Regions from separate parts of the Homo sapiens genome. Here all the other regions are linked to region 4. The links come from fine-mapping of genetic effects on gene expression. A gene starts in region 4. Each other region holds a variant in brackets. All regions are shown on one strand. Distances are from middle to middle.

Evidence for each region.
Region 1: its variant is fine-mapped to the expression of LINC02035 in whole blood (TOPMed, PIP above 0.99).
Region 2: its variant is fine-mapped to the expression of LINC02035 in lung (TOPMed, PIP above 0.99).
Region 3: its variant is fine-mapped to the expression of LINC02035 in whole blood (INTERVAL, PIP 0.93).
Region 5: its variant is fine-mapped to the expression of LINC02035 in testis (GTEx, PIP 0.99).

The regions. Positions count from the first base shown.
Region 1 is chr3:122,792,751-122,798,829 of GRCh38, reverse strand. HSPBAP1 (HSPB1 associated protein 1) reads left to right here and starts at 4,999. Exons shown (of 8, transcript NM_024610.6): 1 at 4,999-5,213. The coding sequence starts at 5,150. It overlaps SLC49A4 (solute carrier family 49 member 4), which reads right to left and starts at 3,761. Exons shown (of 9, transcript NM_032839.3): 1 at 3,295-3,761. The coding sequence starts at 3,637. RefSeq lists a silencer at 3,435-3,924. The variant G/A (reference allele first, on the strand shown) is at 3,213.
Region 2 is chr3:122,842,392-122,848,423 of GRCh38, reverse strand. SLC49A4 (solute carrier family 49 member 4) reads right to left here. Exons shown (of 9, transcript NM_032839.3): 5 at 2,553-2,661. Among named protein-coding and RNA genes, the nearest start is that of LINC02035, 41 kb to the left of the region's middle. The variant A/C (reference allele first, on the strand shown) is at 3,671.
Region 3 is chr3:122,702,440-122,708,518 of GRCh38, reverse strand. It overlaps PARP14 (poly(ADP-ribose) polymerase family member 14), which reads right to left. Exons shown (of 17, transcript NM_017554.3): 7 at 4,541-4,777; 8 at 3,771-3,992; 9 at 251-329. Among named protein-coding and RNA genes, the nearest start is that of PARP14, 25 kb to the right of the region's middle. The variant G/T (reference allele first, on the strand shown) is at 3,429.
Region 4 is chr3:122,883,650-122,889,728 of GRCh38, reverse strand. LINC02035 (long intergenic non-protein coding RNA 2035) reads right to left here and starts at 3,216. Exons shown (of 1, transcript NR_024618.1): 1 at 1-3,216.
Region 5 is chr3:122,750,236-122,756,314 of GRCh38, reverse strand. HSPBAP1 (HSPB1 associated protein 1) reads left to right here. Exons shown (of 8, transcript NM_024610.6): 5 at 884-1,055; 6 at 3,641-3,724. It overlaps LOC124906363 (small nucleolar RNA U13), which reads right to left and starts at 5,943; the gene lies at 5,840-5,943. The variant TTCCA/A (reference allele first, on the strand shown) is at 3,114.

The DNA.
Region 1 (6,079 bases), 91 kb after region 4:
CTGTCTCTGCAAAAAATACAAAAAACTAGCCAGGCTTGGTGGTGCGTGCCTGTAGTCTCAGCTACTCAGAGGCTGAGAATCACCTGAGCCCAGGGAGGTTGAGGTTGCAGTGAGCCAAGATCACACAACTGTACTCCAGCCTGAGTGACCAAGTGAGACTCTGTCTCAAAAAAAAAAAAAAAAAAAAAAAAAAAAGATATTTTAGTACCCAAGGATGCCAGAAGCAAGAAAGAACCTGCTTTCTACGTGCGTAGATGGAACACCTGTAGCAGGAAAGCCAACATATAAAAGTGTATTTGCTTTCTTCTACTAAAAATGAAAACTACTTCCTAATAAAGAGAATTTTTAAATGTATTTTTTATTGCTTCAACCAAAGGAAAATATAAAATTGAATTCACCATATAGTCACAAGAACTACTGAAGAACTAAAGTACCTTATTTTATAAAGTGAATGGGTAGTTTCTAATTTATCCTGCCATGGATAGTAGGTACAATTATAATAAGAAGGGTGCAAATTAACATTTTTCTACCATAAAAAACAAGGTTGGCTAAATTTGGGGAATAATATTGAAAAATGCTCCTGATAAAAATAAAAAGAAACTATAACACAGCATTTTCCCCTGAATTTAGCCAACCTTGTTAAGGGAATGACCAAGGAATTATCACAGATTGGAGGAAACTAAAGAGAAATTACAACTAAATGTAACAGAGGACCCTAGACCGAATCCTGGAACAGAAGAAAAATACATCAGTGGAAACAAATACAATCTTTTTTCTTTTTAAAAAAATATTATTGTAACATTGATTATAGGTAAAGTACTACTTTGGGTTTGTTTGTTTGTTTGTTTTGAGACAGGGTCTCATTCTGTCACTGAGGCTGGAGTGCAGTGGAGCAATCATAGCTCACTGCAGCCTCTACTTCCTGGGCTCAACTGATCCTCCAGCCTCAGCCTCCCCAGTAACTAAGACTACAGGCGCATGCCAACATGTCTGGCTAATTTTTGTATTTTTTGTAGATTTGGAGTTTCACCATGTTGCCCAGGCTGGTCTCTAACTCCTGGGCTCAAGTGACCCACCCGCCTCAGCCTCCCAAAGTGCTGAGATTACAAACATGAGCCACTGAGCCCAGCAGAAACCCAGAGAAAATCAATATTTAGTTTAAAAGCAAACAACAATAACCCAAAGAAAATCTCCCTTTGGTAGGAGAAGCCCTTCTTCGGCATCTAGCACACATCCTCTGCAAAAGTATTTGCTCTAGCTGGAAGTTCTACAGCAGTCAAGACACACCCATTCAGGGCTGGGTATCTTTGTTAGAAGGTTCTTCCTTGTATTGCTTTGAGTTACATTTCTTTGTAACTTGACTCAGTCTAGTTCTTCCTCCTAGAACAACACATAAGTCGAATTCCTCTTTGACTTGATCTTCACATAGTCTATATCTTGCCTCAAGTTTCTTTTTGAAGTGTGATACACACAAGTTCCCTTCATTTTACACATCATGATTTTTATACCCTTTATCATTCTTGTCGCAGAACCTTTAAAGTTCTGCAGTTTGTCAAATGGCCTTCTCAGAATCAAGCTCAGAACTAAACACTAATGTAGAGCCTATCAAACTATTTTGCTTCTTGTTTTGGACACTATGTTTCTATGCCTAAACTGTCCTTTCTTTTTTAGCAGCTACATTATATTGTTGATCATTAAGGAATTCACAATCAACTATTCCTTAGTCTTTTTCACATGGATTCCAATGAAGGAATTCCAGTGAAGGAGGAGAGAAGGAAGTATAACTACTAACATCACCCTGCTATTCTATTCTCTTAATAACCAACTAATTTTGAGTGCTAACTACATGCCAGACAATTGCAATTCTATACCTACCTACACTTGACTTTTGCTGAGGTCTGAATGTGTTCCCCTCAAATTCATATTTTGTTTATGTATTAATTTTTCTGAGACGAGTCTTGCCCTGTTGACCAGGGCAGAGTGCAGTGGTGCCATCACAGCTCACTCCAGCTTCGACCTCCTGAGCTCAAGCAATCCTCCCACCCCAGCCTCCCAACGTGCTGGGATTACTTGAGCCACTGCGCCAGGCCTCAAATTCACATTTTGAAATCTTAACCCTCAAAATGATGGAATAAGAAGGTGCAGCCTTTGGAAGGTGATTAGGTTATGAGGGTGGAACCCATGTGAATAGGATTACTGCCCGTATAAAACAGACCTCAGAGGGATTCCCTAACCCCTTCTTCCATCTTATGTTATAGTGAAGAGACCACTGTGTAGGAAGCAGGCCCTCACCCGACACCGATTCTGCCTGAGCCTTCATCTTGGACTTCCCAGCCTCCAGAACTGTGAGAAATAAATTTCTGTGTTTATGAACTACCCAGTTTATGGTATTTTGTTATAGCAGCTCCAGTGGACTAAGACAACCTTCCAAATCTGACTAAAGAACTCATTGCAACAAAACTTATAAAAGGTTGAACAGAAACTGTACAAAGTAGCTCCCAGGCATTATTCAATTAATAAATATAAAATCTTGCACAACAGCCTCTTGAGGGTAGACTGTCACTACTAATCATTTATCCATACTTATGTGGTAAGTATGCCTTGATTCTCAGCCCTATGGCTTTTTCTTCTCAGAGAATCACACTGGCAAGTGGTAAAGTGAGATGTCCAGGGTACCATTCTAAGCAAGCATCTTCACTCATCTGCAAGCTTTAATTGAAAGTCACAAATCTCAACTGAGAAAGCCATCTAGTCACATACACACATTTTAAAGCTGCCGAGCACCACCTTCCAGAAACCAAAGTGTCAGATCTGAGTTTCCCAATAGCTCTTCCTGGGCTGGAGTCATCTATTACACAAAACGAACTCATTATTTCCTTACATATGGGCACCGTCAATCTATTTTCCGACCTTTCATCCTCAACATCCCCATATCCCTTTGAAGTCAAAGCATCAGTCATTTTTGTCAGGTGTAAAACACATACACCGCACGTGCACGGGGATGCTCTGATGTTCACAATGTGTAAAAACTTGAACGTTTAGAGATCGCTTAAATCCCTGGTGTTGCATAAAGGGCCTTGATAAAAAACATAAATATTTGCAAGGTTGCCTTTCCATATTTGTCGCTTTGGGGACGGAGGGTTCCTAAGTCAGAAATGGAATGCTAGCAACACTCTATCACCTCACACAACCCCTATGCCGGGGCCAAGGGA[G/A]GCGGCTGGCAGGCCTGGAGCGCGGGCAGGCGCCTGCTCCCGGAGGAGAGACAGCGCGGGCTGGCGCTCCGCGACCCCTCACCTCTCTTGTCCAGGAGCCACATGAACGCGAAGCAGGGCAGGAAGCCGATGGGCCCCCACAGCACGAGCAGCGCGATGTCCCAGCTGGAGAAGCCGTAGGCCTGGCGCGCCGAGTTCTGGATGGGACCCCAGGTGTTCCAGACCAGGCCCTGAACGAACGCCAGCAGCGAGAAGAGCAGCAGCACCAGCCAGCGGCGCCCGTATACCCGCCCGGGACCCGGGACCGCCGCGGGCAGCGCCGCCGCCGCCGCCTCCCGGCTTCTCCAGGAGGCCCCCAGCCCAGGCCCGAGCCCGGGCCCCAGCAGCGGCTGCCTCTCCTCTTCGCTGCTCCAGCGAGAGCCCATGGCGACGCGTCGCCCGCGAAGCCACTGCCGGGCGCAGTCCGGGTCACCGCCGACTAGCCCAGCGCAGAATAGTCCTGAGCAGCAGGAGGCGGAGGCTGCTGTGGTCGCCCTCGGCCTCCGGACCGCGCCTGGTGCGCCTGCGCGGCCCGAGCCGGGCCGGCGGGGAGGCGGGGAGGCGGGGCAGGCGGCAAGGAGGCTGGGGTCCGCCCTCCCCTCCGCGGGTGGCGAGGAAACACCGGCGAGAGGAAAGGAGCCAGGTCCCAGACGGAGGGCAGGTAGCGCTGAAAAGGCAGGGACCAGCGCGGCTGAGTCGGGGAGAGGGAAACTCCCAGAGAGGCTGTATTCGAGGAGGTTGGGCAAGGAACCCTGGGGTGTTTGGAGGAAGTGTCCAAGTTAAATCTTGTGCCTAATAAACAACTCAGTGACCTGTTAAGTGACGTCAGTTAACCTGATGCTTGCTTCTATTTTGGGCTTATTCTCATTTTTGTTGAGTTAGTAACTTCAGAAATTATAGGCGAAGGATAAAGTTTAAGCGTAGTTGGTCCCAGGGGATTATCTCATAAAAATCATTTCTTACGTGCAATAAGTACTACCTATTTTTGTTACTTTTTTGTCTTACATATCCAAAGAGGAGATTCCAAACTAGCCAATTTCATTCATATATATGTAAACTTTACCCATTTCGCCTGCCAATAGGCGAGCAATAAAGGTATGTCCAGTAAAGTTGGAAGATTTTTGCCCCAAAGATCCATCTCCAGTGATTATGATTTGACCACAGGGTAAACGAGAAGAAAGGTGGTTGTTGATCTCTTCACACAGCTGTTTGTTTATTTTGGTATACAAATTCAGAAGCCTGACAGCTGTGGATTAGTGTCCTTGAAAACCTAAAGTCAAGCAATTTGGCTTGTCTGGATCGGGAAATGAGTCACAGGGAACGCAATCACAGGATTCTTTGCCCGAGGTTCGTATTTCCCGGCAGCCACTAAAATCAGAAGGAGTCAGGTTACCACCAGAAGGGCAAGAGAGGTGTAAGAGAAGCGTGAGCTAGCCTCGCATTCCAGGCTGCCAAGAGCGGCTCGCGAAAGCTCACGGCAGAGACCCATCCCACCGCCGGAGCCCCACTAAGCGGCAAACCTTCCCCTAAAACTCCAATCCTTTAGGGTGGAGAAAAGCCGAGGTGGAAAGGAAGGATCTGACTAGAAAAGGAGAAACAGAAACGAAGCTAAGACTACAATAAAGAACGCTAAGGTCCGGGTTAGGTAAAAAGCGCCACAACTCAGACCACGTGTTTGTATTTCCACACCCGGGGTATCAAAACAAAGCTGCGTGGTCCCGCCCAGCATCCGTCACGTGACCTCCACGTGAGAGCCGGCGTTTCCGTAGGAGCCGGGCGGGAGTCGCCGGGGCTCCTTCCTGTGGTGCAGCTTCGGGTCTCGGAGTTTGGCCCCTACTCTGACCCCACCCCAGCTCCGCTCCGCCTTGGGTTCCGGCAGAACCCGCCTTGCGGTAGCCATGGCAGCAGGCTCCGAGGCGACCACTCCTGTGATCGTTGCGGCTGGGGCTGGAGGGGAGGAAGGTAGGTGCCAGGCTGAGGTCCGACCCTGAGTACAAACCCAATGCCAGTTGACTCTCGTGGCACCCCTCGTGGGGCCGTTTGCCTTAGCCCCAACCCAGGTCTCTCTGGCCTTGCATTAGACTATGAAGAAAAATCTATATTTTCTAGTGAGCGTGGCATTTCTCGAATTGTGGCATCCAGATTTTTGATCGTCGTAGGGTAGCCTACGAGTGCTGTTTCACGCATGGGGTGTTATTTTTGTTTTGTTTTGTTTTATATTTGCCCATCATTAGCTAAATAGAGGTGTTTTGAACGTTTAGAGGGGATTAAAATTAAATTTGTGAAATTGAAGGCAACCTTTGAGATTAATGGAAGTTATCTGAGACTTTTGTGAACAGGGATTATGCGCTTTTATTCTATTTCAGTGAACCCTGGTTTAGCAAGTGGGGATGAGGTTTGGAGGCCCATGAGCCTGAGATCCCTGTTATTATTTATTGAATGATTGCACCGTGCAGGGCTGTGTTCTGAATACTGTCGCAGGATCCAGAGACTTTTGAATATTTATAACAATACCTTTTCCAAAGGAGCCTAGAAAGGAAAAAGAATGACTTACTATGTGGTCACCTGAACTATTCTACCAGTAGTACACTCTGTGAGGGTTGTTAGGAGGAGGGATCTCAGTGGGGAGAACATAAATGCTTCAAGGAGCGAATAGTTTGAGGTCGGCCTTTCTTTTTCTTTTCTCTCTTTTTTTTTTTTTCTTTTTTTGAGACGGAGTCTCGCTCTGTCACCAGGCTGGAGTGCAGTGGCGCGATTTTGGCTCACTGCAACCTCCACCTCCCAGGTTCAAGCAATTCTTCTGCCTCAGCGTCCCAAGCAGCTGGGAC
Region 2 (6,032 bases), 41 kb after region 4:
TTTACTAAATATCAAAACTAGTACTTATTTATAACACTAGTATAAATAACACAATTTGGTATTGGTGCAGGGACAGACAAACAGACTAAAGGAATAAAGTCTAGAAATACACCAGTGTATATAAGGAGACTTGCTTACAACAAAGATGAATAGAGGGCAGTGAAGAAAAAAAATGATCTTTTCAAACACTGATATTAGGTTAACAAATATCTATGGGGAAAAAAGAAACTTAACGCCTATAATAAATATAAAATCAATTCTAGGTTTAAATTCTAGGTAAATGTGACAGGTAAAAGAACAGAGCTCCAGAACAGCACTGTCCAACAGAACTTTCTTTGATGATAGAAATGCTCTCTATCTACACCGTGCAACATGGTAGCTGCTAGTCTCATGTGGCTATCCCGCACTTGAAAAGTGCTACTGCAACTAAGGAAGTGATTTTTTACTTTTATTTCATTTCAATTGGTTTAAATATCAATTAAGTTTGAAGTTTATTTTGAATGTGGCTAGTAGCTACTATACAGGATGACACAGTTGTACAAGATAACATATTTATGAACTTGGAGCAAGCAAAGATTTATCTTTCTCTTTTCTGCATTATAGCCTCAGTCTGCTAAATCCAACATCTAGAGTATCTAAGAGTTGGTTTCTAATGATTGCTTTTTTAATTTTTTTAATTTTATGTATCTATATTTGAGACCACCACACCCAGCCAAATAGGGGTCATACTTTCCTGTTTCTTTACATGTTTAATGCACTTTTTTTTAAATTGTATACTGGGCCAGGCATGGTGGCTCACGCCTGTAATCCCAGCACTTTGGGAGGCTTAGGTGGGCGGATCACGAGGTCAGGAGATTGAGACCATCCTGGCTAACATGGTGAAACCCCGTCTCTACTAAAAATACAAAAAAATTAGCCGGGTGTGGGAGGCACCTGCAGTCCCAGCTACTCGGGAGGCTGAGGCAGAAGAATGGCGTGAACCCGGGAGTCAGAGCTTGCAGTGAGCTGAGATCGCGCCACTGCACTCCAGCCTGGGCGACAGAGCGAGACTCCATCAAAAAAAAAAAAAAAAATTGTACACTGTATGTTGTGGATGACACAATAAAGAGATTCTAGATTCTTTTATCTTTTCTAAGATGGCTGGCTTTTGTTCTAGTAGGCAGTTCAATTACTAGTTGATCACCTTGAGCATGTGTAGGCCTCATTTTGTACTTTATAAGGATAGATCTCCAAACTCTCTCCTCTTCAGATTTTTGTCTTTGTTTATAATGGGTCTACACTAGAGTAAGGCTTCCTCTACCTAGGGCATGGTCCTTGATTCTACAGTTTGGCTATTCTGGTTAACAAGTGTGAATGAGGTGTTACCATTCTGGCTGGGCCAGAACTCCAAGACAATCTTGACGTCTTCTATCTTTGTTCTGCTTTCAACCCATACCACTCTCTCTGTTAAGCCTCCAGTAGTTTTGCCCTTTATATGTGCAGCCCATTTCTCAGCCAAAGATTACTGGAGTCCCCCAAAGTCCTCTGGGGAGCCCTCTTCTGCACAGCCCTCTTCTTTACGTATCGGTAAGAAAAAGGCAGCCCAATAGTGGGCAAGAGACTCAAACTAGTATGTCACAAGAAAAAGATATTCAAAATATCCAATTCACACTGAAAAGACACCACAGAAGTCACTATGATGGCATACAACTGCACAGCTATCAGCATGTCTAAAGTGAAAAAGACTAATATTATCACACAAGTGGCAAATGATGTGGGATGATGAGAAATTTTTGCTGGTAGGATTACACATGGATACCACCACTTTGGAGAAGTTTGGCATCATCTACCAAAGTAGCATATACTATACGCAGCAGTTCCATTCCTAGATATGTATCCAGTAGAAATGTGTATAGAGGTGCATAGAGACATGTAAGAGAGTGTTAATACAGCATTGTTTGTGGCTGTCAAAACTGGTTAACAATCCAATCCAAATGTTCACCAAAAGCAGAATAGACAAATTTTTTTTTTTTTACTCATACAATAGAATATCACAGCAGTGTGTTCTCTTCTATTTACCTCTCAAAATTTCTCTCTCCTCCTTTCTACCATGCTATCTGGAAGCAAAGAGAAGGAATGGATGACATCAAGCATATAGGTGAAATGTTTATTTTTAAAGAAATGAAATACCCTTATTTGGAGCCCAGAGAGAAAGTCAGAAACTAGATGAAGAAATAGCTATATATTTGATGATGGGATCTTAATCTTCTTTATAAGGTACGAAGCAAGGATAAAGAATGGGGTCAACAAAACTAAGACTTCCTTCCTTTTTTAAAAAACCAGTAGTATCATTAATAATGCCCACAGAAATGTGAAATTCACAACTATTGTCAAAATCAAGGAGGAAAATCAACATTATTTTTTACCTATTCCATAAAGATCTTGCTTTTGCAACAATGGTATAGGACGATGTTTTACCCAGTCCTTGAAGCTAAAACCAAGAACACGTAACCAGTATTTATAAATTAAATGAACAAAAATACCTACAACATATAAAGAAATAAAATACTTACTTGGCTGACATGCGCTGGTGTTAAAATTAAGTCCAGAACTCCAGACCAGCCAGCAAATACACCAAGTGGTATGGCATATGCTAAAGCAATCATCAAAAATCGAAAATTGCTGTGAATGAGAAATAAAAGGAAACATTGTAACAAATTAAAAATCTAGAATAAACTTAGTCATGAAAAATGTATGTCATTTGGAAACTGGAACACCAGAATCAGAAAATATCTGCAGAATGGCATTAAAAACTCAAAAAAAAAAAAAAAAAAAAACGTGCTGGAAAGGTAGCAGAGAAAAGGAAACGCATATATACTGCTGGTTGAAGTGTAAATTGGTTCAGCCACCATGGAAGGCAGTTTGGCAATTTCTAAAAGAACTTAAAAGAGAATTACCATTTGACCCAGCAATCCATTATTGGGTAAATCACTCCACTATAAAAACACATGCACGAGTGTATTCACTGCAGCACTATTCACAATAGCAAAGATGTGGAATCAACCTAAATGGCCATAAATGGTAGACTGGATAAAGAAAATGTGGTACAAATACACTATGGAATACTCCACAGACATAAAAAAGAACAAGATCACAACCTTTGCAGCAACACGGATGGAGCAGGAGGCCATTATCCTAAGAAAACTAACACAGGAACAGAAAAGCAAATACCACATGTTCTCACTTATCAGTGGGAGCTAAACATCAAGTACATATGGACACAAAGAAGGGAAAAACAGACACTGGGACCAACTTGAGGGTGCAGGGTGGGAGGAGGGTGAGGACAGAAAAACTACCTATTGGATACTATGCTTATTATCTGGGTGACAAAACAATCTGTACACCAAACCCCCATGACATGGAATTTACCCATGTAACAAATCTGCACACGTACCCTGAGCCTAAAAGTTAAAAAATATATATGTATATATACACACATATACACATATGAATAACTATATATACACATATATGTACAATATGTGTATGTACAGGTATATATATATATATATTCTTCAAGAAGCTCAAAGTGGCAAGCTTTATAAAAGAAAAAAATCTGTCAGTTAATAAATTCAAGCTTCTTGAAATTTTTTTTTTTTTTGAAGATGGAGTTCCACTCTTGTAGCCCAGG[A/C]TGGAGTGCAATGGTGTGATCTCTGCTCACTGCAACCTCCGCTTCCCGGGTTCAAGTGCTTCTCCTGCCTCAGCCTCCCAAAGAGCTGGAATTACAGGCACCTGCCAGCACACCCAGCTAATTTTTGTATTTTTAGTAGAGATAGGGTTTCGCCATGTTGGCCAGGCTGGCCTCGAACTCCTGACCTCAGATGATCCACCCACCTTGGCCTCCCAAAGTGCTGGGATTACAGGCGTGAGACATTGCACCTGGCTCGCTTCTTGAAATTTTTTATTTTTATAAGAATAATATTTTGTTCATATTGTTTAAAATTCTCAATGTTTATTATACAGATAACCAATATTATTTCATCAAATGAGTAGGTAGTTTAAAAAAAGCTCTGGCCAGGTATGGTGGCTCATGCCTGTAATCTCAGCACTTTGGGAGACCAAGGTAGGAGAATAACTTGAGGCCAGGAGTTCAAGATCAGCCTGAGCAAGATAGTGAGACCTCACCTCTATAAAAAATATATAAAAATTAGCCAGGTATAGTGGTGTGCACCTGTAATCCCAGTTAATTGCAAGGCTGAGGCAGGTGGTTACTGTGTGCTATGATCACATCACTACAATCTGGCAGTACTTGACAAATTAAGCTTAGACTATTTTATGACCTAGCAATCATGTTACAGGGTCTGTTTTCCAAAGAAATTTTCAGGTCTATGGTGACGTGCATGAGGATGTCACTGCAGTAGTGTTTATGGTAACAATAAATTGGAGGCAATCTGGGTACACAATGAGAATGAGTAGATGAAATGTGATAGATTAATACCATGGAGTACAAAGAACTAGGTGTACACACAGCAGCAGGGGTGCATCTTGAAACAGAGTGCTAACATCACAAAATGAGAGTTGTCCAGATATTATACGCCTCCTGATGAAAGGAAGCAGCATCACTTACGAAGCGGTCTTGTAAAACAAAAACAAAAGCAAAACTAAAACCTGAATCACAACATACTTTACAAGAACCATAAAGGAGAGGGGAACATGTCAAACTATACAATGAGGAAATCAACAAAATCCAGATGTTGGGAATAAAAGTGCTGGCTCCTCAACAATTAAATTATAAGAAACAAAGAGCCATGTTAAGGAAACCTATAGATTCTAAGGCACTTTGGACCAATTGCAATGTGTGGCCCTAATGTGGAAACTGTTCAAACAAACTGTTAAATGTTTATGAGATAATTGAAAATTTAAACACTGATTTGATATTAGCAAATTATTATTTAAAAGTTTTTAGTTAAAATAACGGCACTATATGTTAAAAAGAGTCTATTTTTGACATATATTGCACATATTGAAATATTTCTGGATGAAATGGAGTTGTCATCTGGGATTTGTTTCATGATGCAGGAAGGTGGGAAGTGGGAAGTGGGTGGTACAAAGATAAAACGAGACTGGTTGTAAACTCACTGACAATTGTTGATACCGACTTATGGGGTTATACTATTCTACCTTTGTATATTATTGTAACATTCCCAAATGAAAAGTTAAAAAAAAATAAACCATGTAGTGCTTAGTGAAAAATGTCAAACAGAATGATATGCACAATATGGCATAATTTAGATGAATTAAACATAGATGCATACAAAACAGTACACATACTGCAAAAGCACAGAGACAAAGAGATACACATTAAAGGCATCTGAGAGGTGGCCTGGGTTGGGGGAGGGAAATGGGAGAAGGAAATATAAACGTAAAAAAAGTAGATGAGTAAATGTGTTTACGTGCTGGCAAATAATCTGATTAACTCAGAAAGCAATGATTTCAGGAATTCTATGAGAGACTGGGGGTAATTACACTGGTAGGAAGGGAATGGGGCATGGCAGGCCCACAGAACTCCCCTGGAGAGCCCAAAGGTAGAAGCTGGCATTCATGCAGAGTAAGCAATAAAAGACAAAGGAATGTTAGGTACTGGTGAAAAGGACTCTTTATAGAGAAGGAAGATCTTACACTTTACGGTTTAAACAGAATGAAGAGTTTGACTCTAGGGTAATTAGAAGTAAACACAAGTCAAAGGGGTTGGGGGGACAATTTTAAGTTAACTGTTTTTCCTTGTCAGAACAATCCTGTACATAACTTCTTGGCTTAAAATCCTTCAGTGACTCACGATTTCCTACAGAATAGTCCAAAATTATTAGTACGTCATAATATGACCCCAATCTACCTGTCTACCCTTCTCTATTGCTATCTAACATCTGCAATCTTTTTTTTTTTTTTTTTTTTTTTTTTTGAGACGGAGTCTCGCTCTGTCGCCCAGGCTGGAGTGCAGTGGCGCGATCTCGGCTCACTGCAAGCTCCGCCTCCCGGGTTCACGCCATTCTCCT
Region 3 (6,079 bases), 180 kb after region 4:
GAAATGGTAGTCTTGTCATTACTTAAAACCCATTATACAGATTACATAACTTGGCCTGCCTTCCCTTTTGCTTCAGATTATATAAACATGACCAGTGTCTTACATGCTCAGGTATATGAAACATAACTTAGTATCATTTGTCACTCATTGATTTTTTTTTCATAAAAATTATCACTACTGTCTTTTACCTGCCAATGAACAGTTACTTAGCAACTAGAAATCACTTCTCAATTTAGAAGCTTTACTGAACCTTGTGTATCTTTAGCCTTCGGAATTTTGTCACTGACGAGATTTCCATTAGCCCTTCTGGCAAATTCATCTGAAAATGCCTGAAATATAAACACAGCGTTGATCATTACACTCCTCAGTAAATGAATAAATTGGAATCATCAGGGTGTTTTGTCCTGCATGCACACATACATATTTGGGAGATAACCATTCTCAAACAGTATTATTTAATTTCATTGCAGATCTTGAAAGTTATAAAAACAACACATGATTCTGTTTCTATAAATGTGTCTAATGAAAATATCAACGATGTGGACAACGATGTGGATAAATACAAGGATATTCACTACAGTGCTATTCATAACAGAGAAAAAACAGTTAAAAATTCAACAGGGAAAAAGTTAAATAAATGTTGCTGTATCCATGTGTTGGAGTATTTATTAGCCATTAAAAATCGTATTTTCAAAGAATTTTTTAAATGAGGTCTTGCTGTGTTGCCCAGGCTGGGGTGTCGCCCAGGCTGGAATGCTAGAGGCGTGATCACAGTTCACTGCAGCCTCGACCTCCTGGGCTTAAGCAATTCTCCCACCTCAGCCTCCCAAGTAGCTGGGACTATAAGTATATGGCACCACACCCAGCTACGTTTTTTGTTTTTTGTGTTTTTTTGTTTGTTTGTTTTTTGTAGAAACAGGATCTCCCTATGTTGCTCAAGCTGGTCTTGAACTTCTGGCCTCAAGTGATCCTCCTGCCTTGGCCTCCCAAAGTGCAGGGATTAAAGGTGTGAGCCACTGTGCCCAGCCTCAAAGAAGATTTAGTGAAATAGAAAATAAAAGCGAAGGATATTAAATAAAATAATTTATAATCACAATCCTTTATTTATTTATTTATTTATTTATTTATTTATTTATTTGAGATGGAGTCTCATTCTGTCACCCAGGCTGGAGTGTAGTGGCACAATCTTGGTTCATTGCAAACTCCGCCTCCCAGGTTCAAGTGATTCTCCTGCTTCAGCCTACTTGGGAGGTAATTTTTGTATTTTTAGTAGAGACGGGGTTTCACCATGTTAGCCAGGCTGTTCTCCTGACCTCAGGTGATCTGCCTGCCTTGGCTGCCCAAGGTGCTGGGATTACAGGCATGAGCCACCGCTCCGAGCCAATCCCACTTTTAAAAGTACATATGTAAAAAAAAGCAGGCTGGAATAAAATCCAACTAAAGAATTTATGCATTTTGCATTGTTCAAAGTTTCTACAATGAACATGAATTACCATAATGGTCAGTCAAAGCAAATAACTTGCCAATTGTAAAAACTACAATGTTAAGAGAATGACCATCACAAGGTCCCAAACACTTCCGTTTTTAATTTCCTATTTGTACCAAAAGAGGAGGGGCTGAGGAGTCATGATTTTTGGAGCAAGTAGCTGGTGTATGTATTCTAGTGTTAATAAACCTGTGAATTTCATTTTTTTTTTTTTTGCCTGTTGGTGACCCTCCATAATCATCATTTTCTTCCTCCTTGTAAACAAGCAACAGATAATTTTGTTGGAAAAAAAACAAGTAACATCTTGGCTAAAGATAGATGCAATAATGGGAGAAGGAACCAGAGAGAGGGTAGAGCAAAGATCTCAGACTCACAGGCTTCTAGGAGCCAGGTAGGTAAGGCACATGTGTAAAGGTGGTCTGATTTGACTATGGAGAACTAGAGAACACCTGCCACTCAGCCATGGAAAACTTCCTGTCCCAAGCAGGAAGCCATGTTTAATGTGCCAGAAGTTTTGAAGTTTTAGGTTGTAGTGAATATCTAGAGTTTTATGTAAAATTTTTGATTTTTAAATGTTAGCAACTGATTGAAATTTTTTTTTAATAATCTAAATAAAGCACATCTAGAGGCCATGTTCAAATCACAGGACTGCTGCTTTGCATCCTCTGTGACAGTCTCCATCTATAAACATCTCGATAAGCTTTGCTGATTTTTTTGTGCAAATGTAACCAAAGTTTAACTGTCTTTAAAAGTCTAAAGAGAAAAAGTGTAACAGACACATACAGAGAATTTCAAATGGTACTAAAGGCATCTGTATAGACTAATTCTTTTTACAGAGTATTTGAAAAATACTCAGTCTTCAGGAAAGAAAATGAATGCTGAGGTTGCATGAAAAAGAGTGATATTTGAAGGTTCAGGTCTGTGTCACAGGACTCATGCTGTATTCAATCACCCATGCATTCAAAAACAGCACTTCATGCCTCTCATTTAGTTCATTTTGTGTATATAAATCTTAGCTCCAAAGTAATTGTGATTTATAGGAGGGAAAGTATGTGCTATTCCTATTCGTCCTGTTCCACGATCCACATCACCTTGCACAATGCAAGTCATAGGGAAATTATTTTAAAAGCTTCTGTTGCACAGAAGAGTAACTAATTATACGGGACAAGTAAATGGACCACATATTTTACTCAGGTGGTTTGGCTGCCTGATCAGAATTCAGGTCAGATTTACTTGCTTCCAAAGAACTTATAGGTAGTATCTAGCATCACAGAAAAATGAAGCATTACCTAAAAATTCAGATGGTCCAATGATCCACAGGTATCTCTTGGGTTGCTGATCTTAATCTGTTTGATCAATTTTTGCAGTACCTTGGGAGCTTTTCAAACACTGAATGTCATCTACTTTATTTGATTAAGTAAAGACTCGGAGTGCAGGGATAATGGCTTAAAAGCCTGTTGTGCTGCCATAATGCTGAGTCCAGTGGCTCTCCCACAGCTGATGTGAGCTGAATCATGAACTCATGATTGATGATAGTTCTGGTGTTTCTGGTCCCAACTCTCCTATTTACATGGGAATGTGCTAATCCATTCTAACCACACCTTCTGACATCTTCCTATTGATAAGGCCAGACTGTGCTTTTATACTATGTATTAAAATTTCTATGTCCATATGGAGGGAAATCCTATAGTCAACTCCATTGCAATATGTGGGCCTTATTTGGATTCTGATTCAAACACAAAGCTGTAAAAACAAAACGTTTATGAGATAGTCAGAAATTTGAGAATTGATTTGATAATTGGTTAAAGGAATTATTGTCCATTTATTTTAGGTGTGATACAATATTGTGGTTATGTTACTTTTTTAAAAAGAATTGTTATTGTTTAAAATAAATGTTGAATTGTTTATGGATAAAATGATATGTCTGAGATTTGCTTCAAAA[G/T]AATATAGAAGGAAGGGAAATAGATGAAGATAGAGATGAAACATATTGGCCATAGGTTGATAACTGTTGAAGTTCAGTGATAGGTACAAGGGACTGCATTATACTATTATGTCTACTTTTGGATATGTTCAAAATTTTCCTGAATAGGAAGTTAAATTTTTTCTACATCTGTAACTTTTCTTAAAATTTGTCATGCTACAACTACAACTACAAGTATAAACTACCTTCTTACTTTCCTGAATGGGGAAATGAATGAAAAAAGTATCCTGTTAGACCAAAAAGACATTTGAAAAAACACTAGGTCTCAGTTGCCAAAATAATCAGAAATTAGTGGCACTGTACCTGAATATTTTCATGATCACTCGGGTGCAGCAGAAAGTGAACCTCTTGTAAAGTTTTCAGCTGATTCTTGCTACTAAATTTGAACACCTCTGAAATGATTAATTCAGCGAATATGTTTTTAGGAAATCCCAAGTTTCCTGTTCCTATTGCTGGAAATGCAATTGATTTTAAGGACAAGCTCTCAGTGATCTCCATACATTCTCTGATTATGTCTTCCATTATCTGAAACGCACAAAGCACATCCTTATACATCTTGTCTAGAAATGGGAGTTAGAACAAAAAGGACAAGAATTTAGCAACTTTGTGAACTTGAATACTCCTTTTTGCTGTCAACACTGATTAAGGGCAATCAGAAGAGGAAAGAAAAATACAGGAGAAGGCAAGGAAAAGGAAAAGAGAATGCGAGAGACTTAAACACATTCACAATGAAGGAAAGAAGCAAAGCAACTACTGTTCTTTTCCTTCATTCTCTTCCATTCTTCACACCCTCCTCTGGCTTTCTTCACTAAGCAAGCAATAATATTATCTTCAGTAACCCTTCCCTGAGCTCCAATAATTATTGAGCACAATAATCCATTTATAGTATTAACTAGTCCTCAGGAGAAGTCAGCTACAGCTGAAAGAAATGGCCACATGATGGAATCTGCCAAAAGAGTGATTATTATGGAAGAGAAACAGACAAGGCCCAATCTATGTCCAATTAATATGCTACTAAAAGGAGAACCCAAAGGGCTACCCAACTTCATGGAGAATTCAAAACCAGGCCCAACCTTGAGTGAAGATGTGCTACCATTTCTCCACTCCGGAGCTACCACGTGAAGCACATAGCGACAGTCCAGATTCCAGCTGCTGGTTTTGAGCACTGTGCCCATGCTGACAGCCACCCCTTGTCCAACTGTGTCCAATTCCTCCTGGAGCTCTGGTCCAGCTTTTTCCAAGAGGGACTTAGAAAGAGGCCCTCTACTAAGCACGAGATCCAAGGGAACGGAGTTGACAACAACATCGGTCTTAAAGACAAAACCAAAAATTTGTTTCAAATTTTAACAAAAAGCATTCATCAATGATTACTATATTTGAGGCACTGGGCTTGGCACAATTGGAGACAACTAAGATGACTACGGTTTCAGTGATTGAAATATCAACATAAGACAAAGTGTGACTAAATACTTATTGAAGTGACACTTAGGAAAAAAAGAGAGCAGTCAAAAAGTAATCTATGAATGGTATGGCATCACTGAAGGAGTCCAGAGAAAGCTGTTTCAGTAACTAGTGAAGATACCATGGGCAATGTGGGGTTTGAGAAATGGGAAGAATTTCAGCAGGCAGAGCAAGACAGGGAGCAGCATGAACATAGGCATGGTGGGTTGTGAGCTGTGAACAGATTAATTTGATCTGAGAGAGCTTCTGCAGCAAAATGGTATGCTCCAGGCTAGAAATGTTACACTGGGGGTAAACTAGGGGGCCCACCTCGAGTGCCAAGACATCTGGACTCCCTGACAGAAAGGGAGCAGCCCCGGAAGCTTTTTCATCAGTGAATGTGAGCAGATTAATCGGGCTAGATTAGAGAGGTCAAGAGAACAGAGGAGAGGGAATGTAACCAAGTGATTTTCAAAGCTGCCCTGCCTGGGTCACTAAGGAGTAATGCAGAGCAGTTATTACAGCCATGGAAGCTAAGCATCTATGGGAGTGAAAGGAAAGCAAACTATGACTGTTTTTTGTTTTTTGTTTTTTTTTTTTGTTTTTTTTTTTTTTTTTAAGAGAGAGGGTCTTGCTCTGTCCACCCAGGCTGGAGGGCAGTGGCATGATCATAGTTCACTGCAGCCTCAAACTCCTAGGGTTCAAGTGATCCTCCCACCTCAGCATTCCGAGTAGTAAGGACTACAGGTATGAGCCACCATGCCTAGCTGGGAAAGAATGTCTTGATATTTGGTGTCAAAAGAGACAAGGAATGAAATTCATTCCCATAACTGATGCTTGGTCCAAAGAGTTTTTATTTAATTTTTTAAAATGAGACACAACATTATTTTTAACATTTTGAAAGAGTGCAATGGTTAAGAGCCTGAACAAATTCCAATCCTGGCTCTACCATTTGCTAGTTGGGGGATGTGGGCAAATTACCTAACCCCTTTAAGTCTCACTCCCTCATCTGTAAAGTGAGAATAATAATAATCCTAGAATCTGCCGCATGGCAGTGAATGAGAACATGCATGTCAAAAACAGCACAGTGCTGGCTGGACATGATGGCTCACGCCTCTAATCCCAGCACTTTGGGAGGCTGAAGCAGGCGGATCACCCGAGGTCAGGAGTTC
Region 4 (6,079 bases):
TGTACAGATGAGCTACAAAGCTTCCAACAGCCCTTTTGGGGGTGTTGCTGGCTTTGAGTTAGGTTTTATGAATGGACTCACTGGAATGCAAATCTGAGGGCCAGGAGGCTGATTTGTTTGCTTCTGCACCCTCAGTGCCTAGCCCAGTGGCCAGCATGAAGTGGGAGCCCAAAACATGCTGGTGAATTATTAAATTATTAGCTACAGATTCCTCAATCCTGGTTCTTTTTTAAAAAAATCTTAATACGATCTGCTTTTATGATAAAATCCATGCCTGACTTTAGAGTGTTCATTATGTTCAGATTGTATAACAAAGTAGAAAAGATCATAGTCTGCTTTAAGATGAGAGAAACAGTTTTCCTAAGAAAAATTAAAGCTTTTAAAAAAAACATGAATGAAACTTCAGGACCTAGATAACCAAGAATTTACTGGTAAAGGAATACTGACAAAAGAGTGAAAAGGTAAGGGAATCAGCAGATGGTTCAATAGAGTAACCTTTTCCCAATTAGATGGAAGGACAATTACAGGCAACAGAATATAGCACGGAGCTTCTGTGCCTAGGTGGTCTATATTAAACTTGAGTAAAAAAAGAACAAATACAGGGACTTCTCTATTCTGAGATAGAAAAGGGTCAAACATTAGGACTAAGGTATCAATTGATTTCTTTTTCCTGAAAAGGTCAAGTGCAATTGACAAAAGAGGAGGAGGGAGGCCCAAGGTAGGGATTCTTTGGGACATGGGGCAAGGATCCTGGAGCCAAAACCCAAGGGACAGCGGAGGTATGGAGGAGAGGGATGGCTTTACTGGGGATACCTGTATTACTTACTACAATGATTTCTCAGCAATAACTCATTGATCAGGAAGAGTGAGTGCAATGCGAATTAGTGAATTCAGGGAAGGACTAAGAACCACCACCTTCAACACACACACTGAACTCTACTGAGCAGGCCCTATTCTTCCTATGGCAGGTAAGATGGGATCGACTCCCTCTCATGACTTCTTCCAGGCACTTTCTGAGTCACAGACCTAAACAGAAACAGGTAGTTATGTGTGTAGGCCAAGGAAGTGATTTTGTTTGGGACTTGTGGATGCAGTGTATTAGGATGGAGGCGGGATTTTCTTAATGCTTAATTTTCACAAGCCTCCAAAATGACATATTTCTGGTGGGGAGGGAAGTAAATTCGGAACTCGGGGCATTTGTAGTAAATGAAATAATTGGCAGGAACTAAAACCTGCCCTTTTTAGCATTCTTTGGGTTTCTGCAAAGGCTCAGGGGGCTGGGACTTCACTAGCAATACATCAAGTGTGATTAGGTTTACTCACACGTATAAACTGAAGGGTTTCTGCAGTCTCCAGCCCCCAAAGTAGCCCTGCTCTATGTGGCTACCTGATATCCCAAATTCTACCATTAGAAAGCCCCCTTTTGGTATTTAGCCTTTGTTCTTGTTAGTATTCAAATTCCCCTTAGAAAGGAGACCCACAAAGCCTTATGAGTATAAGCATCTTAGCATGTATGCATTTGTTAAATTTTGTCTTAAGAGAAGGCTGGGGTACCAACAACATTCCCAATTTCCCATAGGAGTAATAACCAATTCCTCAGCCATGGAATGATGGTAGGGTTGGGATTCCTCATGCAAAAATTAATTCTGTGCCTCCAGACAGATCCAGATCTTACTCATGAAAAGAATATCAGTGGGACAGAATGTCTTTTCCTCAAAATCAGTTATGGTTTATGATTTGAGAACAATATATGGGCTCCTGTTATGCATAATTATTTGGGAAATTGTCACTAGCTCTTTGTAATTGTTAGTTCAGGAGTGTGTTTTTTAAAAAAAAACCTTCTGACTGGGCATGGTGGCTCATGCCTGGAATCCCGGTACTTTGGGAAGCCGGCAGGAGGATCGCTTGAGGCCAGGAGTTCGAGAATGGCCTGGCCAACATGGCAAAACCCCATCTCTACTAAAAATACAAAAATTAGCTGGGTATGGTGGCGCATGTCTGTAGTCCCAGCTACTCGGGAGGATGAGGCACGAGAATCCCTTGAACCCGGGAGGCGGAGGTTGCAGTGAGCCAAGATCACACCACTGCACTCCAGCCTGGGAAACAGAGCAAGACTCTGTCTCAAAACTATCTCAAAAAAAAAAAAAAAACTTCATTTTTCTGATTATCTTTCACTGCCATGTAATTGTACATATATAAATTACTCTGCATACAGAATGAATAGTATACATGGATGAAGGAACGAATAGATATAACAGTCTGAAAGTTTCCCTAATGCTGGCACCTGTAACACATCACTAACAGGGCCTTGTAGAAGTTCCTTATTGGTTTGAGAAGATAATGTATAAACTGGGAGTACTGGTGGAAAAGTATTGCACTCATGTTTTCTACTTTTTGGTTGTGTGTGACCAAGGGGTATAGATCAGAGAACTGTAAAACTTTTCAGCAAAAAGAAACATCTTCTCTGACCCTCCTATTTCAGAAGTGAGGAAGCCAAAGTTCAAAGAGAACAGATGACTTGCCCAAAGCCCCATGTCTTCAGCCATGCAGAAGACAGACGCCCAGACTTCCTGACACTGAGGTTGGTCTTCTGGTTCACTTCTCTCTCTCAGAGCTATTAATATTATGCTCACATTATAGTCACGAGGAAGTCTTGTTGGCCGGACATGGGGGCTCACGCCTTTAATCCCAACTCTTTGGGAAGCTGAGGTGGGAGGATTGCTTAAGTCCAGGAGTTCAAGACCAGCTTGGGGGAACATAGTGAGACCCCTTCTCCATAAAAAATAAAAAATTAGCCAGGGGTGGTGGCATGCGCTTGTAGTCTTAGCTACGCAGGAGGCTGAGGCAGGAAGATCACTTGAGCCCAGTAGTCTGAGGATACAGTGAGCTATGATCATGCCACTGCACTCCAGCCTGGATGACAGAGACTGTCTCAAAACAAACAAACAAACAAAAAAACCCTTGTTTACTAACACTTGAGTACAGATCATTCCTTGACATGCTGAAACTTAGCTCTTATTCTGTAAAATATCTGCACAGTTTACTGGAAGAATCTGACCATGTGGAGATGGCATCATTGCAAAGCAACTTACAATTCTTTGATGCCTTAACTAAAGATGTAAGTTCAAGGATTGGCTTTACTACCTGACCTAACAGTTTTGATTTCTACAAGTGCAAACCCATGCTGCCTCATGATGAATCCAATCAAACCAAAGGACTCGTATCTCGTTTGATCTGATTCTGGTGAGCAAATGCAGTACCCCGACCTGGCTCCCAGTATGCTATCTCAACATCAGATGACAGATTTTTCTCTTATTGCATTTGATACATTTAATAAACCCTGTGTTTCATATATAAAGTCCTTTGGGAAAATAAACAGCACCTGCAGCTTATCTCCTCCCACAGACACTGAAAAAGCAATTTCTTCTTATTGAATGTGGATGCAGCATAAGATTTCATATGTTCACGTACAGGGCTCACATGAGGGGGGCTACCGCACAAATGGAAACACCAAGGTGCTGGGCACCTCTCCAGCTTTACAGACTGCACATGCTTTGGTCATGTTCATATTTAAATAAGAATCAACTGGTATTTCTGAATTAGAAGAAATCTAAGGGAACATTTTTGCTCACTCCCTCATTTTAGAGATGTTGCTAAAGGAGAAATGAAGTGACTTGCTCAAGGTCAAATAGCTGAAGTCACCAGGCCAGGGTTAAGAGCCAGACCCGTGGGCTCCTACACCAGTGCTCTTTTTCTCTGTCCTCTCTAGTAGGGTCCATGAAGAATCTGCATGCCCGGCTCTCTCCTCTCCACCGCTGGCAACTCGTAAAATCTGGGTGTCACACAGCTCGCTCCCAAGCATTGTCAGAAATAAGAAGACACCATCAGAAAGGGGAAAGCTGGATGGGCAAGAAGACAGGAAAGGAAAAAGTGACCAAATGAAGCTGAGCTTCTGGCCTGCTACAGTTCATCATTTCTACTGACAGCTTGAAAATTAGGAAAGACACAGAAGTTGACCAGGAAACAATAAGAATTATCAGAATCTCCATTAGCTATTTTTTCAAAAAACGAAATTGCACAAGCCAGGCTGGGCAACATGGTGAAACCCCATCTCTACGAAAAATATAAAAAATTAGCTGGCATGGTGGTATACACCTGTAGTCCCAGCTACTTGGGGGGCTGAGGCTGGAGGCTTGCTTGAGCCTGGAAGATTGAGGCTGCAGTGGGCTGAGATCACACCAGGGCACTCAAGCCTGAATGACAAAGTGAGACCCTGTCTAAAAAAAAAAAAAAAAATTGCACAAGATTATTCTTTTGGCTTCTGTTTTCTATAATATTGTGTGCCTCTGCAGAGACAGGGAAGCCAAGAAAGTCCTGTGGAGGAAATCTATATGGATTTCATAGGTCGGTTACTCACTTTCTTTTCTCACAGTACAGGGAGCTTAGTTGATGGTGTTAAGAACAGAAATTGTATTTCCAGTAAGAAAACACAATAGTGCATATTGGAACTCAACTCAATAATGCATATTGGAACTCACTTTTGAACTTTAGAATATGATAAAGCTTGATGGTACATAAGCAGGTCTGTGAAACACCTACATTAACCACAATATGCTACATCTGACAGATTCATCTGGGAGAGAAATAAGGATCTCAGAAACTTCTGCTTCTGCCCATAAAGTTTATACCAATATGGTCCAAGAAAGAGATCCCTAGGTGACTCGATTTTAAATGCCCCCCGAGTTTTTATACATAGATATGTAAATGCATACACAAGTTTCTTCTGAAAGAATGAATGATGATACCCTCTGGAGAGAATGGATTAAACAGCATGTTTGTATGGAGGTAGACTTTACTTTCTATTCCTGTACTATTTTATAATAGTTATACACTCATGTATTTCTCATGTAATTTTCAAAACTCTAAAAGAAATGAAAAAAATTACTTAAAAGAATTACTTATGGCTAACACATTGATCATTTAGGGATTGAATGCTGGTCTAGGAGCCAAGTGATCTGCTAAAACCTGGCTGTGTCATTTAACCTAAAAGGTTCTCTACTGATTTGTAAAATGAGGTGGCTGAATTAGATCATTTCTTTGATTCTATGATCCTTCTGGGTAAATGAGAAAGCCAATTAGAATTAGATGAAGCCTAAATTAAATAGTGCTTTAAAAGAAGTATCATTTTCTAACATTAAGGTAAACTGACAGTTTCTCCAAGTTATCCTTGCCATTTTGTTCAAGGTTGCAGAAGCTGTCTTTATAAATCAGAAGAATTTATAAAGTAGGGAATGCGAAGAGTTCTGTGATGTTTGGGTTGATATTCTGGTATCCCCTTTGGAGTCCCAAGCCTTACAATGTACTATGTCCAGCAAGCACGTTTAGAGTTAAAATAGCTTGATGTGTTTTGATTATTTCATCAAAGCTACTGAAATCAATTCTATGCTTTCATTTTTTAGCTAGGTTAAAAAAAAGTTTAATTCTCCCTTGTTGAATGAACAGAACAGCTGGGGCTGGGTAGCTTTTTGTTCTCTCTTTTTGAGAGTGGGCTAAGATGGAAAGCTACTGTTTGAGGCATATCAGATTCTAGAGCACAACCAAAAGACCACATAAAGCAATTAGCCCATATTCTAAAAATGCAACAAGTAATAACTATAGAAACTTGTTAGAGACCTTTGAAATTCCCATATCAAGGAAATACTCGAACTTCTAAAGCTTAGCTGTGAGAAGACCTGTTAAATCTTTCTGGAGCACCTGGGCTTACTCATGTTCTGAGCTTGCTAGCGTCTCGTTCAGGAGAGGAAACTCTGAGCGTATGGCCTTATTTCCTATTCGGGAATGAGAATGGATTTCTGCTGGGGATCCTGGAGAGGGGTTGAGGGTGAAGAAGCCTGTGTCAGAAAGTCAGTTCAAGAAAGTGGAAGGTCTCAGGGACAGAGCTGAGGTCAGATTCATCCAAGGGTTGAGAAAGGTATCTGACGAGTCAGAGCCTCAGAAAATCATAAAGTGATCTAAATCCTGACCACAAACAAATGTAAATCAGAGAGACTGAGGGCCATGTAACTGCCTGTATCACTCC
Region 5 (6,079 bases), 130 kb after region 4:
CTTCTTAGTTCGAAAACAGCAGCCGCTGTTTCTTGGTTCTGAAAGGACTTGATAGCCCCATTCTAACAACTGCAAGGGGTCACTAGAGGGCTTTGGGCTTCTTTTCTCAGAACTAGGTTTTTCCCTCTTTTCTCTTTGCCTCCCCATCTAGACATCTAGATGTCTGGGTCTCATTTTTTTCTCATACTTCTCTCGCTTTTGCCTCAGATGTCTTCCCTCTATTGGCATAAAGCATAGGAGTGTCTAGTGTTTTGTGAGTTAGAATTTATTACCTCCATTTTCAAAACTGTTTTAAATGACAAACATTTTAACAGTTTTCTTTGAAAATTCCTATATTATACTGCTTTATTTATGTGGCATTATTTGTGCATGTCCACTCCCTAATGGATCAACTTAACAAATGTTTAACTTAAGGAATTTATAACCCAAACAGGGAGAAGTCTGGAAACTATTTGGTGGATAGAACTATGAGTGTTTGCTCTGAATAAGATAAGAATACAGATATTTGAAAGGGTGGGGGTTATTGTGAATAGCTCTAGAGTCAGGGATGAAAACTATTTATGAGAAGGCAGACTTTGATTTGAGATAAGAAAGAATGATCTTATGAACTAGATTCTATCCCAGCAATGTAAGAGGCTGCCTCATGGATGTCCTGAGACATCCATGAGGCAGCCCCTTAGTTGCTACACAACCTTCCACCCGGTATCTGCAGAGGGATTCTAGCGCTGAGTCAGAGATGGACAGGTGACCACTGATGGTGCCTATATTCCCTTAGGGATTGAATTTAAACAAGTAAAAATGAACACTTAGCTTTTGTCTTCTTCCATGTTTTGTCTTAAGGTCAGAGTACTAACTTGTATCTTTTTTTTTTTTTTTTAATTAGGAAACGATGGCATCTCTTTCCTCCTGAAGATACTCCTTTCCTTTATCCAACTAGAATCCCTTATGAAGAATCTAGTGTGTTCAGTAAAATCAATGTTGTCAATCCTGATTTAAAGCGTTTTCCTCAGTTCCGGAAAGCTCAAAGACATGCGGTTACACTGAGCCCAGGACAGGTAATAGGGCTTTAAAACATTAATGACCTGCCAGGGGACACCACAGCTGTAACTCTCTCAAGTCCTTATGCTGTGTGCTTCCCCTCCCTGCGCAGTGCAAATGAGAATGGCTTCCTTCCCTCTGCTCTGCTGTTGGAAGGTAGCTTCCCCAGTTGTAGGCTTCAGACACATACACCTCTGCTTCACAGGTCCTGGAAAGGAAATGGCAAGAGGGAACACAGCTCCTCCTATTGGTAAAGAGGAGAATGGACTTTGGAGGAAGACAGTCTACAAGAGTCATTTTCATTTAGGTCAGGAGAAAATGTTCAAGGCATGGGTACTCGAGCATCTCTGGAACATTTAATCACAGTTAGTATCTGTTCAATTATGATAGCACTGAACCCAGACACATAAACACAGGTCGGAATGCCTCCAGGTGTGGGCCAACGGGCAGAAGGAACCGAGAATGTTTGCTTTTAAGCAAAAATGGATGTTGTTTTCATAAATTACTAACTCTGAAACATTTCCAAAGGTACTGTACATAGTGCTGCTTCCCAGTGAGGAAAATTTCCTTTTCAACATTGGCACTTGCTGTCTGATATTTCATTAATAATTTGAAAGGTTTTCTTAGTCACTTAAGAAGATTTTATTCTCTCGATTATCCCTCTCCCTTGCCTGTCTTCCATCCATTGTACCGGTCTCACTGGCTCTTTTCCTGCTTCCTTCACTCAAGTACTATCAACTCAAACAATTTCACTTGACTGAGTTGCCTCGACCTGTTAGTCACTCTGCATTCCCCTCTCCCCACAGCCCCTGACAACAACTAATCTTTTTCTATCTCTAGATTTGCCCATTCTGGACATTTCACACAGTGCAATATTATAATACAGGGCCTTCTGTGTCTGACTTCTTTCACATAGCATAATGTATTCAAGGGTCATCCACGTCATAGAATGTTACTAGCACTTCATTTCTTTTTTATGGCTGAATAATATTCCATTGTATGGATATACAACATTTTGTTTATCTGTTCATCAGTTGATGGACATTTGGGTTGTTTCTGCTTTGTTGGCTATTATAAGTAATGCTACTTTGAACATTCATGTACAAGTTTTGTGTGTACATATGTTTTCAATACTCTTGGGTATACCTAGGAGTAGAATTGCTGGGTTATATGGTAACCCTGTGTTTAACTTTTTGAGGAGTTGTCAAACTATTTTCCATAGCAGCTGTACTATTTTGCATTCCCACCAGCATTGTATGAGGGTTCCAATTTCTTTTTATCTTTCCCAACACTTGTTTTGCTTTTTTATCATTATTTTTACAGCCATTCCAGAGAGTGTGAAGTGGTTGCCAATTCATTTTCTCTTCTGTGTTTAATAGCCAAATTTGAGTGATTGGTTTTGCCTATTGTATCAGTTTTCCTTACATCCTATCCATTCTTTAATCCACTCAAACCCAGCTCTTTCTGTCACCACTTTACTGAAACTTTACTCTGATAGGACATGCATAACCTACTAATGACTATCAAGTGGCCTTTTATAGTTTCCAGTTTTCCTGAAAGGATCTCTCTTTCTATTTCCCAGTCCTGCCTTGTTCACAGCAAATACCAGTAGTTTCCTAATGTGAAGCCCAAAAGCTTCACATCATTTCCATCTACTCTGCTCTTAATAGGAAATCTCATACTGAGTCTGGATAGATGCCATCCTTCTTGACTCTGCCCATTGCTTTTGTTTATTATACCTTCCTATTTATATCTTAACGTTTAATAAGTGGACCTTTGCAAGTATCTCCTGTCCTTCTCAGACTCTCTCGATACCACTATTTTAACCATCCCCCTACTTAGAATTTCTCAACAACTCCTAGTGCCTACCAGATAAAATCTAGATTCTGAAGTCCGCTGTCCCTAAACTAATTCCCCTACCTTATCTCCCATTATTCCCTCTGTGATAGTAAGACTGACCTACTTGCTATCTTCTGTAGTCCTACCTCCCTCACCTGTACCTCTTATCCTTCCTGGCATGTCCTCATTCTTTCTGTGTCTAAATTCTCTCCTAGCCCGGGTTCAAATCACACTTC[TTCCA/A]TCCATGTTGCCCCTGACCTCCCTAGTTCATGCCTGTTTCACCCACCTCTGAAATTCTGAAACACCATTGTCCCCTGATTTACCACTTCTATAATGCCACCTTTCTATACTTTATCTTCTCATTGGCTAGATTTTGAGCTGTGAGAAAACAGAAGCCACGTCCTATGTGTTTTACCTATGCCCTTTCTCAGAATGCACGCAACTATTTTGTGACGGAAAGGAGGAAAAATTAGAATCTCAGAATCATGTACTAAGATTTAGGTGCAGACAAAGAAGGCCCAGGATTAAAGAGAATAGAGATGCTGGCAGTATCCTTTGTAGAACATGTGAACTTGTCAATAAAAAAGGAATAAAAGGAAAAAAGGTTTGCGGGGTTTTTTTTCTTACTTTACTTTTCTCCAGCAATATTATTGTGAATTCATTTGTATTCCTTTTTTTCCTAGCAGCCTCAATTAGGGTCTGATTCTGACATAAAAATGAAACGTCCTGTTCTTGTGCTAACCATTCTTTGTTTGGTTTTCAGGTTCTCTTTGTTCCCAGACACTGGTGGCATTACGTAGAATCCATTGATCCTGTCACTGTCAGTATAAACTCATGGATTGAACTGGTACTTTTTCGTTGTTTTTTTTTTTTTTTTAAGTAAGTGCAAATCATGCTTTTAAAAGATATATAAGGTCTGGCTGTACAACTGGGTAATTAATTTTTTTTAACCAATGCTTCAGTATTTTTTTGTTGCAGTGCACTATAACGTATGCATTCTGTCTTCTGTTAATGGATGTTTAGGTTGGAAATTGGAATTTTAGTGGTGTGCCACTCTCTTTCTTTTAAGGACACAGAATGCGCCTGATGCTGGCATGCAGGGTCCTTTCCCTTGACCAGTGTTGTTAGGAAAATTGTATTGGGCCTGGCCAGATTTGCCGATATGTGTCCCTTGTTGCCGCTCCTCTTTCACACCATCTGGGCTGGAAATACCTGCTTCTTGGTTCAGGGTCATTACTAATTGCAGAATTCTGTCTTGGCTTCTACATATTCTCAAAGCGGAGTCTTTCTTTCAGTGCTAGGTTTTTATCATTTCATTTCTGCCAGAAGCCTTTCCCTCTGATGTGTTAAGCTTAATCCTGGTTGCCTGCTCTATTTGACAATTAGAATAGCTGCTTGTTATGCTCAAGTCTGTCTCTTCAACTGGGGCCTTAATTGCAGCTGCCTCTCTTTAACCAGAGGCCCTGACTGCATCTCTGCTCTCCTTGACCTGAAGCCTGGATTGCATCTTTCTGCTCTGTTTGACAGCCGTATCCTCTCCCTAGTCTAGTTTTTCCTATCCTTTGCTAATAGGAATGGCTTTGGAATCAGTGGAACAGAAGGAATATTGTTACAGAAAGCTATGTTGTGTGGGCTTAGTGAAGAGTTGTAGCCCTTGAGGCTTAAGTGAGAGGTATGGCAGGAGATCAGTAGCGTCACAGAAATTTCGCCTATAGCATGCTGAACTGGAGTTGCAGCAGATGTCAAGGTAGAATCCATGGAGAACTTCCACTCCCAATGCCAAAGTCATATCTACAATAGCCCTGACAGGTGCTTCACCTCCCAAGGAAGTTCGCTTGTTGTTAAAGAGTAGAGCTGTCATCTTTTTAAAATATTTGAAAATACCTCCAAGTTTTTCCATAATCTTTTCTTCTTCCATGCTCAAAACCTCTTACTTTCTTTAATGGGGTGTTTTTATGGGTGATTTTTTCCTTTTTCCAGACTTTTTACCATTCTGGCCATAGACTTTGGAATCAGGCAACTTTAAGATACAGGTTACCTTTGTTAGCTGTCTAACATAGATAATTACTTAATCTCTTCAAGCCTCCATTTTCTTGTAAAATGAGGATTATAATTGAACCCACCTCAGTAGAGTAATTGGACAACACATTGTAAAAGCATCTAATATAGTGCGTGGCATATGGGAAGTGTTTAAAAAGTAGAAATTGCTATGAGGAGGAGGGAGAGCTATTATGTCAAGAATAGTTCTCTTAATATATAGTGCCTAAAACTGAATATCAGTAGGCCTTATTTGGTAGAGTATAAGATTTCTACCCCACATGATCTCGATCCTAAATATCTCCAGTGCTGCTTGTAATATTGGGTTAGTTTTTTAAGTAATCTCATCTCACTTTAGTTTCATATTCAACTTTAAAATATCTGTGATTTTTTTTCACATGATCTGCTGTCAGGCAGGTTGAATCCTATCCTGTACCTATAAAGCTGATTTTAATTCTAAATCCAGTATTTCACAGTCATCCCTGTTAATTTTCATCATATTGGTTTGGTTGAGCATTCCAGCTTGACAAGATAATTTTAAATTTGGGTCTTATCTGTCATTTTAGTGAAACTTCAAGCTGGCCTGTGCCCTTTTGATATGTCCCCGTTAATTAGACTTTGAGTGTATCCTGGCTTTCTGGCACAGGAAGATATCCCAGGATACCCTTTCTCCTTTAGTGCCCCACACTTGGAAGTCAATCATTTCTCCAGGTAGCCACAGTTCTTTTTGTAGGAAATGGCATTTAGAAACTGAGATCTCAGCTCTAAATCTGTTCATTGCTCCTGGGTGTCAGTGTTTCTAGGCTCTTTCAGTGATGTAGCTAGAATGTGAGATAGATAGATAGATTAGATAGATAGATAGATAGATAGATAGATAGATAGATATTGATGTATTTATATTTCTAATTCATGTGTTTAAAAAATATATCTAGACAGGTAATATGCTGACGTCATAACAAGGCTTAAGGGAGGCATGTCTCACACATGAGCATGACACCCAATCATCAGACTTATGAACTATAAAAGTATCTAATTCAAGTTTAACATGATAGAATTTTTTATTTGTTTCTGTATTTTTATCTCTTCTCTTAACACTGAAAATCTGGGTCCTTAAAAACAGTAACATAAGGCCGGGCACGGTGGCTTACGCCTGTAATCCCAGCAC